Linked DNA regions of Homo sapiens. The protein of the gene in region 1 interacts with the protein of each later gene in a pairwise test. Each region holds a gene or a part of one and is shown in the gene's direction. Other genes may lie near its edges.

Evidence for each region. The genes of interacting proteins can lie anywhere in the genome.
Region 2: the proteins of RHOJ (region 1) and SSX3 interact in binary tests that used the Homo sapiens proteins (3 or more experiments, as listed by UniProt).

The regions. Positions count from the first base shown.
Region 1 is NC_000014.9:63,284,001-63,291,536, forward strand, and holds part of RHOJ (rho-related GTP-binding protein RhoJ), read left to right. Parts: intron 1-4,187; coding exon of another isoform or gene 4,188-4,250; exon of another isoform or gene 4,251-4,317; intron 4,318-6,877; coding exon 6,878-7,024; 3' UTR 7,025-7,536.
Region 2 is NC_000023.11:48,346,288-48,353,823, reverse strand, and holds the end of SSX3 (protein SSX3), read left to right. Parts: intron 1-1,674; coding exon 1,675-1,724; intron 1,725-3,701; coding exon 3,702-3,837; intron 3,838-4,236; coding exon of another isoform or gene 4,237-4,283; exon of another isoform or gene 4,284-4,427; intron 4,428-5,375; exon of another isoform or gene 5,376-6,219; coding exon 6,220-6,320; 3' UTR 6,321-6,324; intron 6,325-6,788; 3' UTR 6,789-7,397; downstream 7,398-7,536. UniProt on the Homo sapiens protein: Could act as a modulator of transcription.

The DNA.
Region 1 (7,536 bases):
AATCGGACTCCTCATCAAGTCATAAATCTATTGACCCAGGTCAGAGGTTTGGAAATTTTCAATCTTACTTTCTAAGTGACTAACCTAGTAAAACGCATACCGCAGGCAGAGTTAGAAGTCACTCTCTTCAAGCCAGTCAAGAATATTAACTACAAATTCTTCACTTACAAAATTGTATGCATTTATCTTATTAAATCTTGCTTGCAGGCACTAAAACTAAGCATGATACACTCAACTAGAAATGAATTAAATACAATCATGTTTTTACAGGTATCCTGCATGAGAACCTCTCACAACACCTGATCGAGATACTGAACTCTTCCTACTTCTATGCACAGTAATGTCAATACTAACTAGCGCCAGACGTCCATGGAGTCCTTAGGATCCTAAGTACTTAATAATATCTCTCACTTCAGCCTCATAATAACCCTCTTAAGCAGATAGCGTTGGTCTCAGCTTACAGATGAGGAAACAGTCTTAGAAGACAAGCACATAGCTAATAACAAAGTCAAAAACTTCCAATCCAGCTCTGTGGACATCACCACTCGTGTACCTGACCGTCACGTAAATGACCTCCAACTGTGTATCTTTCCTTGGGTGAAATGGGTTTATGCCTGTAGGTGCTTCTACCTTCTCCTCAAACATTCATCCTCAAATGCTCTCATTAAGATACCTAAATATGTAGCTCCATAAATAATTGTAGGTGGCTCCTTTCTACACATTTTTCACAGCCAGGATGTCCCCATTGGCCGGCACCAGCTTCTTGCAGGAACTCGCGTTCTGTGTTCCTTCATGCCGTCAGCTTCCTAGCCTCACTTCTCATTGGGGAAGTTGTTTTTTTTCTGTCTGAAAAGAAGTCGTTTCAAAGCCTCCCATCTCGTTTCATACTTATTTTTGGAACAATGGCTGAGTTCACCATTTATATTGCCTTTTGCTAGTTTCTCCTAGCAACTGCTCTCAGATACAGACGGAATCATGTTTAGCTTACAAAATCCAATTTAGAAGAAAACCTAGCAAGATTTTAACTTGTTTTATCACAATTCATGTAATTATAGAGATGCTTTAAGTTTCTCTACTCTCTGACTTTTCTGTCAAGTAGTTTATAATCTCAGCTAGCATTTATGGAGTGTTTATAATGTGCTAGGCTTGGTGCCAGGCGCCTTACAGCCTTTGTCTTAATTAATCCTCACAGCAACCCCCTGAGGTGTGTATATTATTATCTCCACTTTCCTACAGGAAACTGAGGCTCAGAGAGGTTAAGATCGCCCAGCTAGCAAGTGGCAGAGTGAGGATAGAAAACTGTGCTTTAACCACCTGCTCTTCTGCCTCCCTCCTATAATCTGAAAAGAAACCTTTAGGTTTGGGGCTTCTTTTTTATATACTGGAGTCCCTTATTTTCATGTGCAAAGTTCCCCCCCAACTTAAAGGCTTTGCAAGTTCAGATTTTTCATATCTGATTCTTTCTGTTCAATACTTTTCCATTTCCAAAGCATTTTCCACCTAACATCTCTTTTTGGTCTCAAAGGGTGTTTTATTTTCAAAGGACATTTTTATATCATACACATTTACAATTCTTTATACTCCAAAGTCAACCACATTTACATATTTTGCACTAATTTATTATAAATATTCATTATTCTTTGACTTCTTTTATTCTCCCTCTTCTTTCTATTACTGTAGTTTTTAATCCTCAGCCTACTTTTCCCATTCTTTTACACATTTGTAACTGCCCCTATTGCTGCTAGAATTATTAAACAACAATTGATTAAGCACCTAATATGTGCCAGGTGCTATGCTGGATGCTACACTGTTTAGCTCTAAGATTGTAATTCTTTGTGCATTCTCTTTCCCAGTTCTATCTAATACAGTCTAAACATGATCTTCTAAGTTCAGACTTCCTAAGGTATTTTTTGATACAGGAATTTGCCATTTTTTCTTTTTTAATCTCTGGGTTCTCTTTGCCCTCTCCGGCCATCTTCTTCACACTGTGCCTTTTGTCGTTGTCACTCTTTAACTTGGCACCTGCTAAGTTTCCTGCTGGGTTTTTAACATGCACAGGTGGGATTTAAAGCAGCAAAATTGCTGCAAACACCCTGTCATCAATGTTCAGTCACGTTAATCAACTGGAGTCTTTAATGCCCTCTTCCTGACTGGAAGAGTCACTGCCACCTGCCTTGTGCTGGCCATTTTCCCTTTCTCCCTTGGTCATTGAAAGTCACTTCACCACTGGTGTCTGGGTTACAAAGGCCAGAAGAGGAGGGAGACAGGCAAACAAAAGCATGCCACCTGGATAAACACAGTAACACACATCTGGGCAATGTACCAGGTAGCACAGAAGAGAGAGAGACTAATACATTCACGGAAGGAGGTTTCAGAGATTTCTTTAACCAGGTAACATCTTATCCAGGTTTGAAGGATGAGGAAAAGTTTTTCAGGTGGGCAAAGGGGTCTGGGGAGGGCATAAAATTCTAGACAGGGAGACCAGGACATGCAAAGGCATCCTTTAAAGCATAGGGAGCAGATTGGCAACTGACGGGCCAAAGTTCACCCACAAATGTTTTCATTAGTCCAAACACATATTTTTATTGCAATTTAGTGGCCAACATTTAATAGTTTGGAAACACATTTCTAGCCTCTAAAAGAAATTCAGAAGGTCGAGCAACTCTAGCCCAGCATTTCCTCATCAACAGAAACTGTTAAACAGTCTCTTAGATTAAGCATGTATTCTTCAGTCTGCCACAATCCCCACCACTCCATATTATCCTATACTCAAGTAACACACTTTACATTATCCAGCCTTGAATTGGCATCTCTGCATTATAGTCTTCAAAGATCAGCAGCAAATCTGTCTGGCCTAGAAATGTTTTTCCTCTTTCACCAATTTGATCATAATGCTGACTTGTTGAGATGGCGGCTTTTCTCTTACAACCTGTTTGGTTCTTTTTCTTTTTCTTGGCTCTCTATTTGCCTTCTCTGTGTGCCTTTGCTAATTCTCAAATGAGGAATACAGAACTACTCTGCTACTAGCCATTTCTTTAGATACGAGCTTACTCTGTTTATTCCACTAACATCTTCTCTTCTTTTCTCTCCATTTACAGGACATGCCTTCCTTCTTCTTCCCTTCTCTCATCACCTTTACTATATCCGTAACAGCTTTGCCCATTTATTCATTAATTTTGCTCTTTCAGCCACAATTTCATGACATTTGCTAGAGACAGCCCAAAAGAGTAGTTAAGACTTTGGCTCAGGAGGCAGACAAATTCGAATCTCTGCCATTTTCTTAGTTGTGTGGCCATAAGGGAGGTTACTTAGCCTCTCTGGGTATCAGTTTCCTGAGCTGTGAAATGAGGATGGTGACAGATTTTTCCTTGTAAAGTTCTTGTGACAATGAAATTAGCTCATGTACCACAAGGTCCAGCTCAGCAAACTATAGTTGCTGTTAAATCCATGAGCCCTCTCAGACATGTCTACAGCTGGGAAGATCTCTTTGCCTTTATCCCTTCCAGTTACTTTCTATCTTATTCTATAACTTGTCCTGCCCCAACTAGAACAACATGGAAGAAGTACTAGGTTTTCTTTTACTTGATTAGTCATTACGGTTTTTTTTTTTTTTTCTTATCACTCTTGTATCTTCTGTACATCGCTGATAAATGTCCCTGCTTTTGAGATAATAAGTTTTAGCTATTATAAAACAATAAGAAAAGTGTTTTTTCAGTTTACACCCTCAATCTCTACTTTTTTCTTGAAAATAAGTCATTTGGGTAGAACACATTCCAGTTTGCTTGCATGTGTATCTAAACAAGGAGGCTTGAATCCTGAACCCTCCCAGATGGCTTCTAAATACTTGACTGTGTAGGTCATTTTGCTCCAAGGAGCAGATGAAGTTGCTGCTGTAATAAGGGCCACATTTCCTTGAGACAATTTTTCATTTCACATCTTTGAGGACACAGATCATTTTTTTTAGCAATCTGGCTGTGCTTTTTCCTTGAACCGGGATGAATTCTTCTCCGACCCTCATAGCACTTGACACATGGTAACAATACCTACCTCATAACTGGATTGTTTCTCACACGTGTTTCCCAAATGACACCAATAATCTGATGACTACTTTTTCTATCAGTACAACATAATGTCATATTAACTCAGTTACACAATAATGCCTTTATCTGCTATTTCATTATCTTCAGAAATGTCTGAATTGGAAGAGACAAGCTTGGGCTCCTCCCGCTCCATCGAAAGGCAAAGCCTGACATGCTGTCAGCTGCACACTGGGGGCAGGAGGATGGGGAGTGCCCTGCCCCTCCTGCAGGACTCCAGGTGTGAGTGAGCTCAGCCCAGCTGTCCTGGAATTCCAGGCAGAATCAATCCTAGGCTTGGGATCCTTAGTGGAGAGGTATTCCAGATAGAAAGGTGCTACAGCAGTTTCTAGGTATTTTCCAGACAAGTGCCACCACGTTACAGTCAAGTCATTCAGAATCATTCAGTTGGCAACGCTGTTGCCATTAGATTAATGTGCTTTTCACATGTGTTTGAATCAAGCATTGAACACAGTCCCAAAATGCAATAGAAGGCATTTCATTATGTTATTAGGAAAATTTTCTCTGCGCTTTATTCCTCTCTTGTATCTAACTGTTTTTAATTATTTAAAAAAGTTATTTTCTAATCTGAAAACCAAACCATGGTCAAAATGAAAGCCATAAAATAGATTTTCAACATCCAACATCGTTTTCTTTTGGTATTTTCCCTTGGCTCATTCAGTAACCATTCTTGTCAGGAAAAAAATGAAAAATGCATAATCTCTGTCGGAGAGTTTAGGAAATAGTGTCTGGGCCCAACCAAAACCACTTTATTTGATGGTTAGTTTTCATATTTGTGGCCTTTGAAATAAGTGGACAATCTCATTTCATTAACTGTCAACTTGACCAGCTTCTTGCAGAGCTGAGTGATAGGGGTCACAGTTACTGCCACAGAGCAAGGAAATGAACATGTATCAAGAGACCCAGATTCTGGGTCTATTTCTTTCACTTTCTAGGTGAGTGCCCATAAGCAATTCATTTTACCTCTCTGGGGTTATTCCCGCTCTGTTCTAAGCTAAACCACAAGTTCACTTAGTCCACACATTGCAAACTGGCTGGCTGCTGCCAAATATATCCCACATCAGTGTCTTGCTTGGCCCATGGTAAATAGTTCATAAACTGGTAAATATTAAATAAAAAATCCAAATGTCCAACTCCTCTTGAAAAATACAAAAATGGGCAATAGTAAACCAACATTACCACTTGGAAGCTGATAAGACTGCACACCCTAGAGGGGGCATGTGCTTTACAGCCCACCATAGTCCCCTCCTCTCCCTATTGTCTTGCGCCAGCCCCACTTTATCATTTACATAAGCTATTGGGCATAATAGGCCTATGATTTTGCTACCTTGTTTTAGCCATTTGTCTGCTGTAGTTTCCAGGAACTCGCCATTTAGCCAACCTCTTCTGAATCTGCTTTAATTTTTCAAAGTGATTCTTAAAATGCGAATCAAAAACTAAAGTCATTTCTCCAGATGTCCTTAATAGTAAAAGGCCAACATCACATCATTGACTCTTCCTGAGCTTATGAACAAATAAAACCGCAGGTCTCCTTCACAAGAAGCTGACTGCTAAATATGGTCTGCCCTGGTCTGTGATTTTTAAATGAGAATCTATAGTTCTGGCCTGAATTTCTATATTTCTCATGAGAGGTTTGTGATTATCAAACACACCATAGTATGAAATCATCAGAATATTTAAAATGAAGCCCTATGCAAGTATGAAATACCTTATCATTTAAATATATAGACTGTACACTGACAGGATGTCTCTGGCATTAAATGTCTTTTATGATTATCGTTACATGTTTTATTGTTATTGTTACATGTTTTAGTGGGTTTTTTTTTTAACTTTTTAAAAAATATGCCTTTTAAAGTGTGTTAAGGCTGGCTGCAGTGGCTCATGCCTGTAATCCCAGCATTTTTGGAGGCTGAGGCGGGCGCATCACATGAGGTCAGGAGTTCAAGACCAGACTGGCCAACATGGGAAAACCCCGTCTCTACTAAAAATACAAAAACTAACCCGGCTTGGTGGCACACGCCTGTAATCCCAGCTACTTGAGACGCTGAGGCAGGAGAATCACTTGAGCCCAGGAGGCAGAGGTTGCAGAGTTAAGATGGTGCCACTGCACTCCAGCCTGGGCAACAAGAGCGAAATCCATCTCAAAAATAAATAAATAAAGTATGTTAAAACTAAATAATAATGCCAATTGGATATTACCTTGTTGAGGGATACCTTAAAAGAGGTACATTTTAATCAAGAATGACCTATAAAACCATATCATTCACTCTCTTTCTATCTGCTTTATCAACCAAGCTGACACTTTGCCTTTTATCATACCAAAGAAGATACATTTCACTTGTACATGATTTACACATTCTGCCTACAAATGAGAGGATATGAAAAACAAGATCATGCACCCCTGTTCTTCACAAAACATATTTAAATTATATCATTGGTTTTGAATTGTCTCCTAATTTTTTAGATCTTTGCATTTTTTATGTTCTTAGGAATAAATGGCTATGGGTCAATTTTAGGATTTACTGCTTTCCAGAAGTAATCCACAACCATTTATTGCAAATAAAGGAAAGTAAAAAATACAAAAATACAAAAAAAAAAAAATAGGATAGCAGATACAAATTGAAATGGAAAAAAAAAAAAAAAGACAAACATAATCCAAACCACCCCACAGGCTGTTTGTAGGACAGGCAGAAGTAAGTGCTTGTCTGGGCAGTGAGTTGATACCACTGTGCTTTTCTCTCTTTTTTATCTCTCATGCCTTTCTCTCTTTTGTGTTTAAGATCGGAGCACAGTGCTACTTGGAATGTTCAGCTCTGACTCAGAAAGGTCTCAAAGCGGTTTTTGATGAAGCAATCCTCACCATTTTCCACCCCAAGAAAAAGAAGAAACGCTGTTCTGAGGGTCACAGCTGCTGTTCAATTATCTGAGGTTGTCTGGGACCTGCCTCCACCCCATCCAGGGATGAGAATGGCAGCCAATCTCTGTGGCCAAGCTCCAGCCAAAAAGGAGGGCACGACCAGAAAGGAACTCCCTTTGCACGGAGGCTTGCCCCATCACCCTCTGAGCCCTCCCAACACAGCACACTAGTCAGCCCACTGCCACGACCTCCCTGCCAGCCAGAAGCATCCGTACTGCACGCTGTCTGAGAATGCTGGGCCTGGATTGCAGACAGTGCCGCTGCTGATCGCATCAAAAACAAAGTCAAAGGCCATCTCACATTTTACAAATCCCCAGCTCATGAACGTGAAGCTGATAGGAAATCACCCCAGGGAACCCGAAAAAGAAACTTGATTCCTCTATTGCTGGCCTTACTTGATGTCTTTTATAAAACTTGGGACTACAATACTAACCTTTTTTTCTGAATCTGCTGTTCTACCCATGTGTCTCACATTCATTTGTATTATTTCAAGAAATGTACTAATTTCCAGTTCACTCAGGC
Region 2 (7,536 bases), on another chromosome or scaffold:
ATGCAAAAGAAGAATATATATTTTTATGGATAATAAGTAAATGGTAAATGTATACAAACATGAATGTGAATAAAAAGCCATCAAACTAAGGTGACTGGCTGTAAGTGGAGGAGGGAGGGAGGGCAGGGATTGCTGAGTGCTGCACAGACAGCTTCAGCTGTGACTTGTTGATAGTGTGTTTTGTTTGTTTTTGTTTTTGAGATGGAGTTTCACTCTTCTCGGCCAGGGTGGAGTGCAATAAGGCAATCTCAGCTCACTCCAACTTTCACCTCCTGGGTTCAAGTGATTCTTCTGCCTCAGCCTCCCGAGTAGCTGGGGTTACACGCACGTGCCCCCACACTCAGCTCATTTTTTAATTTATGGTAGAGACGGGGTTTCACCATGTTGGCCAGGCTGGTCTCAAACTTCCTGACCTCAGGTGATCCACCCGCCTCAGCCTTCCAAACTGCTGGGATTACAAGTGTGAGCTACCACGCCCGGCCTGTTTGCAGTTTTTCTAATATTCTGAATAAATAAATCAGACCTAACTTAGCTGTGGGGTAATGTTGAGATCCGACTGGACTCAATATTATTCCCCATACTTTTCTGTGTGTTTGAAATATTTCTTTTTTAAATGACATGTTGTTCTTCCTAAGCACTGTTAATGTATCAAAGGACAGTTAAGAAAATGTTACAAGTGAAAAAAAAAAAAAAGAAAGAAAGTGTTAAAACTGTAGATCCGCCAAAAACTTCCAGAGGTTGTTTCATTAACAGCATGTAGGTATTGGATAGGTATCTTAGGAGTGAGGTTGATGAACACATTATGTAATAAAGATCGCTGTTTCTCTGTATTTTATCAAAACCAAATAGTCTTCTCATTCCCAAATAACCCTGATTCTCTGTGATGAGCTTGAAAGAGAGTTTGAAAGAGTGATCCCTTATCGAAAACACAGAGAGCTTTCCCACTTGTCAGAGAACAGAGATAACATAGGATGAAAAAAAGACAGGTTCTTGGGTAGAGAGCTTTGTGCATTTCAGGAAAATAAAGGGGACATATGTATTTACTTGCTCTTCTACTCTGACAACATAATTATAAGACAAGGTCAGAATGTCCAAACCGTCTCCAATAGACCTATTACTCGCCAACTAAACAGGCCAGATTCTACAATCTCCCGCAATCACTATAAGAGATCTGAAAAGCCAGTGCTTGAGTATCTGCCAAGTTTTTAACGTTAAAGGACTGTCTTTGTACTGAAAATCTTTCAGAGCCACTGGACCAAATCATCCGTGGTTCACCACACATTTAACAGCTTAATTCACATACCATAAGATTCACCCATTTGAAGTGTACAATGATTTTCAGTTGTTGCACATCTTGAGTGGATACAGTTCAGATTCCTAACCAATCAATTTAATTATTTGGGAAAAAGTAAAAGATATGTAATCGAATAAGATGAGACTGTGATGGGGTGTAGTCCCCATGTGATAAACCATGAGATGGAAAATTCTGAATTGATGCCACAGATAAATGCATCAACCATGACTAAACATAATTCAGAAGCAAATCTGAAATAACTCCTCAACAATGCGTGGACTCATAAGCCTCTGCTGCAGAATACCCTGATGCGACAGAAGTCTCTCTAGAGTTTGGAAACCTTTACCAACAATGAAAAATTCTGATGTATTCTCTTTCAGTTCAACGTCCTCAGATGACTTTCGGCAGGCTCCAGGGAATCTTCCCGAAGGTGAGTATCTTTCAGATCTAAAGGACCAGAGAACCTTTGTCCCTCCAAGGATGCGAACACTGGTAAGAGTGGGAGAATATCAACAATGCCCTCACTGCCTTCTTCTCCCCATGTCTATCACAACACCTGATGTAGCACCGACGGCTTGATAGTACCAACATTTGTGATTGTTCATACCTCTTTTGTTTTCATAGTGATGCCAGATACTATTTCAAGCAGTTCACATGGATTAATTTATTTAATCCTTAAGAAGACATTGTTTCTATTATCTCCGAATAATAATGAGTAACACATTTCAGTTTTCATCCATATGATAGCCATATGACTTGGCACAAATCTTCTGAGTTCTCTGAGCTCCAGATTCCTGGTCCATGAAATGGAAGTAAAGAATTATAGTTTATGTTTTAGATCATAGTTATCAGCAACATAATAATAAAATGAGGCTATCGTGGTACAGAGATGTTAAAGAATTTTCCTGAGGCGCAGTGTCAGTGGTAGTCTAATCCAGAGCTCCAAGCCATTTAAAGCTCATTCACGTTTGCATTTGTTTATGAAGTTCAGATGTTGCTCACTAGGGCTTCACCCCATAGGGCCTGCTGGTGCTTCCATTGAGACACCCACTCTCGCAACAGGAAGGACCATCTGGTCTCTGCTGTGTTACTGGGGCCACTTGCATGGCTTAGGAATCGCTTTGATTGTTGGCCCCTCCCTACTGTGAGCTCCTTGAGTGCCTTGTCTGCACCTGGGGCGTCTGGGAAGCCCCAGTCCCAGCCCAGGGGATCCCTCGGAGGCCCCTGAATGAGTGATCCCACAAGTGCAGATTCAACTCTGGTTTGGAGGGTAAAGGGATCTGGGAGTTGGGTTGCCAGTGTGGAGACTGAATTCAAAGAAGGATTGTGAAAGGTATTAATTGTTATTATTACTACATTTAAAGAGTGTTTACAAGCTCAGAGAGCACTTTCTTGTAGCCTATTTTACATGTATGGTTCACTATTTCATAAGGGAGGAAGCTGAATTAAAAGTAGCTTAAGATCAGGGCGCGGTGGCTCACGACTGTAATCCCAGCACTTTGGGAGGCTGAGTCGGGCAGATCACAAGGTCAGGAGATCGAGACCATCCTGCCCAACATGGTGAAACCTCGTCTCTACTAAAAATACAAAACTTAGTGGGGCGTGGTAGTGCCTGCCTGTAGTCCCAGATACTCTGGAGGCTAAGGAAGGAGAATCGCTTAAACGCGGGAGTCAGATATTGCCTTGAGCCGATATCATGCCACGGCTCCCCATTCTGGCGACACAGCAAGACTCCGTCTCAAAAAAAAAAAAAAAAAAGAAAAAGAAAGCAGCTTAAGATTGTTGGTCAGTACACATCCCAATGCAACCAGAATTGGTATGGGTACCACCTCACTGAATTCCACATTCAATTGGTGCCTCGGTAGGGTAGTATGTCATATCTGGTACTGCTTTGTTTGCTGCCTAGATTAATTTCAGCAAGCCATTTATTTCCCTCTCCCTTCCTTGTGTTCATCTCCCCACACCATCTTTCCCAGCAGTGTTTTGTCGCCTCCCTATGTTTTTACATTTACTCTCCCAGCAGCTGTCTACAAGCTTATATGGGATCCCTTGTATTTTACAGAACCTCTTCCCTTTGTAGACCTTGTGAATTCTTAGAATGCTACTCTTCTCCAAATCATCTGTATATCACACTCTCAATTAAATGGAGATTTTTGCTGTTTGCAAGAATGTGAGTCCTAAAAGAGTGGGAAGATAAGCATTCTATCCCTGGAAACCATATTCACTTAGGCCATTCCTTTCCCTTCTAACCTCCCCTCCCAGGTTTCTCCTAATTTAGGCCTGTGTAACTCTCCCAGTGTTGTTGAGAACATTGAATAAGCTAATGCATGTGAAGACCCTTTGTAAGCTCAAAAGCACTATAGAAATGTCACTGATACTATTTATCTATGACCTTCACATTATAAAGATCATGCCCAAGAAGCCAGCAGAGGAAGGAAATGTTTCGAAGGAAGTGCCAGAAGCATCTGGCCCACAAAACGATGGGAAACAGCTGTGCCCCCCGGGAAAACCAACTACCTCTGAGAAGATTAACATGATATCTGGTAAGAGGAAGCAATTCAGGAACAATCCCACTGGCTTCCCTGGCGACGTTCAGGTGTGTGGACTGGGTGTGTGGCATGGATCCCAGATAACCCTGGGTCCAGGCTGGGCTGAGGAGCTTGCCCAGCTCCAGATGAGATGTTAGACATGACTTCCAGAGACAGACTGGAGTTGTCATCCATATAAAAAAAAACCACGTGACTTGAGGAAAGTCTTCCAAATTTCCTCAGCTCCAGGTTCCTAGTCCATAAGATGGAAATAAAGAATCATAGTTCATAAATTGTTTGGAGACATTAAATTTAATCTAGAAGGCCTGATGACATGAAAGGTGCTCAAGCGATTCTATCTGTGATAACCTGGGATCATATCTTACTCAGCTCAATGCCTGTTACCCAATACAGGTGTCCTTCAGAGATACTGCAGGTTCGGTTCCAGACCACTGCAATAAAGTGAGTCACACACATTGTTTTTTGTTTGACAGTGCATAAAACGTTATGTTTACACTACAGTGTAGTCTACTAAGTGTGCAATAGCATTATGTCTAAAAATGTATATACCTTAATTTTAAAATAATTCATTGTTAAAAATGCTAACAATCTTCTGAGCCTTCAGTGAGTCACACTCTTTTTGCTGGTGGAGGGTCTTGCCTCGGTGTTGATGGCTGCTGGCTGGTCAAGGTGGTGGTTGCTGAAGATTGGAGTGGCTGTGGCAGTTTCTTAAAAGAACACAACAATGAAATTTGCCACATCGATTAGCTCTCCCTTTCATGAAGGATTTCTCTGTAGTATGTGATGCTATTGGATAGCATTTTACCCACAGTAGAACTCCTTTCAAAGTTGAACTCAATCCTCTCTAGCTATGAAAGTCCTAGATGGCATCTCCTTCCAATAGAAGGCTATTTTATCTACATTGAAAATCTGTTGTTTCGTGTAGCCACCTTCATCAGTGATCTTAGCTAGATCTTCCGGATAACTTGCTGCAGCTTCTCCATCAGGGTTTGCTGCTTCACCTTGCACTTTTATGTTATAGAGACGGCTTCTTTCCTTAAACCTCACGAACCAACCTCTGCTAGCTTCACAGGTTTCTCCTGCAGCTTCTTCACCTCTCTCAGCTTTCATGGATTTGAAGAGAGTTCTGGTCTTGCTCTGAATTAGACTTTGGCTTAAGGGAATGTTGTGGCTGGTTTCATCTTCTATCCTGACCACTCAAACTTTCTCTATTTGAGCAGTAAGGCAGTTTTGCTTTCTTATTCGTGTGTTCACTGGAGTATTAGTATTATTATTTCCTTCAAGAACTTTTCCTTTGCATTATATACTATTATTTCCTTCAAGAACTTTTCTTTGCATTCACAGCTTGGCTGTTTGGTGCAAGAGGCCTAGCTTTCAGCCTGTCTTGGCTTTCAGCATGCTTCCTCACTAATCTTAGCCATTTCTAGCTTGTGATTTAGAGTGAAAGGCATGCGACTCTTCCTTTCATTTGAACACTTAACGGCCATTGTAAGGTTGTTAATAATCCTCATTTCAGTATTGCTGTGTCTCAGGAAATAGGGAGGCCCAAGAAAAGGAAGAGAGACGCGGAACAGCTCATCGGTGGAGCAGTCAGAAGACACAAAACATTAATCGATTAAGTTTGTCATATTCTATGGGTGCAGTTCCTGGTACCCCCAAAACAATTACACACAACAGGGTGATTATAGTCAATAATAACTTAATTGTACTTAAAAAAACTAAAAGAGCATAAATGGATTGTTTGTAAGGCAAGGATAAATGCTTGAGGATGGATACCCTATTTTCCATGATGTGATTATCATGCATTGCATGCCTGTATCAAAGCATCTCATGTACCCCATAAGAATATACACCTACTGTGTACCCACAAAATAAAGAACAAAAATTATTTTAAAACACTAAAAAACAACAAAAACAATTTTAGTAATAATAGTAAAGCTCACTGATCACAGATCACTATAACAGATATAATAATAATGGAAAAGTGTAAAATTGGTGAGAATTTCCAAAAAAAAAAATTGCAGCATCTGCGAAGCAGTATGAACATGAAGTGCAACAAAACAAGGTATGCCTGTGTGGCTTTAACAAATACGTGCTGTATGAAATTAGGTATGGGGGAATGTTCCCGTAAGTGAAGAGGTTGGGAATCTAAGCCTGAGAAGGGAAGGAGCCAGAAGCTAAAACTTTAATTGGCATTTGGCCTATATTGGTGTGGGTCTAAGGTCTCAGCCTCTCTAAGCCAGAGAATGTGAAAAACTGGATAAAGAAGGCCCATGGGCACTTGGGAGGAAGCAGGCATCTCCTTTTTTTGAGTAAACAGAGCCTAACACTCTCCAACCTACCCAACCCTCACTTTCCAACTATTCTCCATCATAGGACCCAAAAGGGGGGAACATGCCTGGACCCACAGACTGCGTGAGAGAAAGCAGCTGGTGATTTATGAAGAGATCAGCGATCCTGAGGAAGATGATGAGTAACTCCGTAAGAGAACCTTCCACTCATCCCCTGCATCCCTGCAGATGTGCTATTCTGTTATGATACTGGCATCCCATCTGTCACTTGCTCCCCAAATCATTCCCTTCTTATAATTTTCTAGTGTACAGCATTGAGGCTGAATGATGAGATTTCCCATGCTCTTTCTACTCCCTGCCCTGTATATATCCAGGGATGCTCCCTACCCAGGATGCTGTGGGGTCCCAAACCCCAGGTCAGCCCTGATATGCGGGCCACACCTTCCTCTAGCCTAGGAATTGATAGCCCAGGCGAGGAAGTCACTGTGGCATGAACAGATGGTTCACTTCGAGGAACCGTGGAAGGTGTGTGCAGGTCCTGAGATAGGGCAGAATCGGAGTGTGCAGGGTCTGCAGGTCAGGAGGAGTTGAGATTGAGTTGTCACGTGGTGGGAACTCACTGCCACTTACTTTCCTTCTCTCTTCTTGCCTCAGCCTTGGGGATATGACACATGCCCATGATGAGAAGCAGAACGTGGTGACCTTTCACGAACATGGGCATGGCTGTGGACCCCTCGTCATCAGGTGCATAGCAAGTGAAAGCAAGTGTTCACAACAGTGAAAAGTTGAGCGTCATTTTTCTTAGTGTGCCAAGAGTACGATATTAGCGTTTCCATTGTATTTTCTTGAAGTGTGTCATTCTGTTAGATATTAACATTTTCACTGATGAGCAAGACATACTTAATGCATATTTTGGTTTGTGTATCCATGCACCTACCTTAGAAAACAAGTATTGTCAGTTACCTCTGCATGGAACAGCATTACCCTCCTCTCTCCCTAGATGTGACTACTGAGGGCAGTTCTGAGTGTTTAATTTCAGATTTTTTCCTCTGCATTTACACACACACACAAACCACACCACACACACACACACACACACACAGACACACACCAAGTACCAGTATAAGCATCTCCCATCTGCTTTTCCCATTGCCATGCGTCCTGGTCAGGCTTCCCTCACTCTGTTTCCTGGTCAGCATGTACTCCCCTCATCCGATTCCCCTGTAGCAGTCACTGACAGTAAATAAACCTTTGCAAACGTTCCCCAGTTGTTTGCTCGTGCCATTATTGTGCACACAGCTCTGTGCACGTGTGTGCATATTTCTTTAGGAAAGATTCTTAGAAGTGGAATTGCTGTGTCAAAGGAGTCATTTATTCAACAAAACACTGAGTGCGTCCTCGT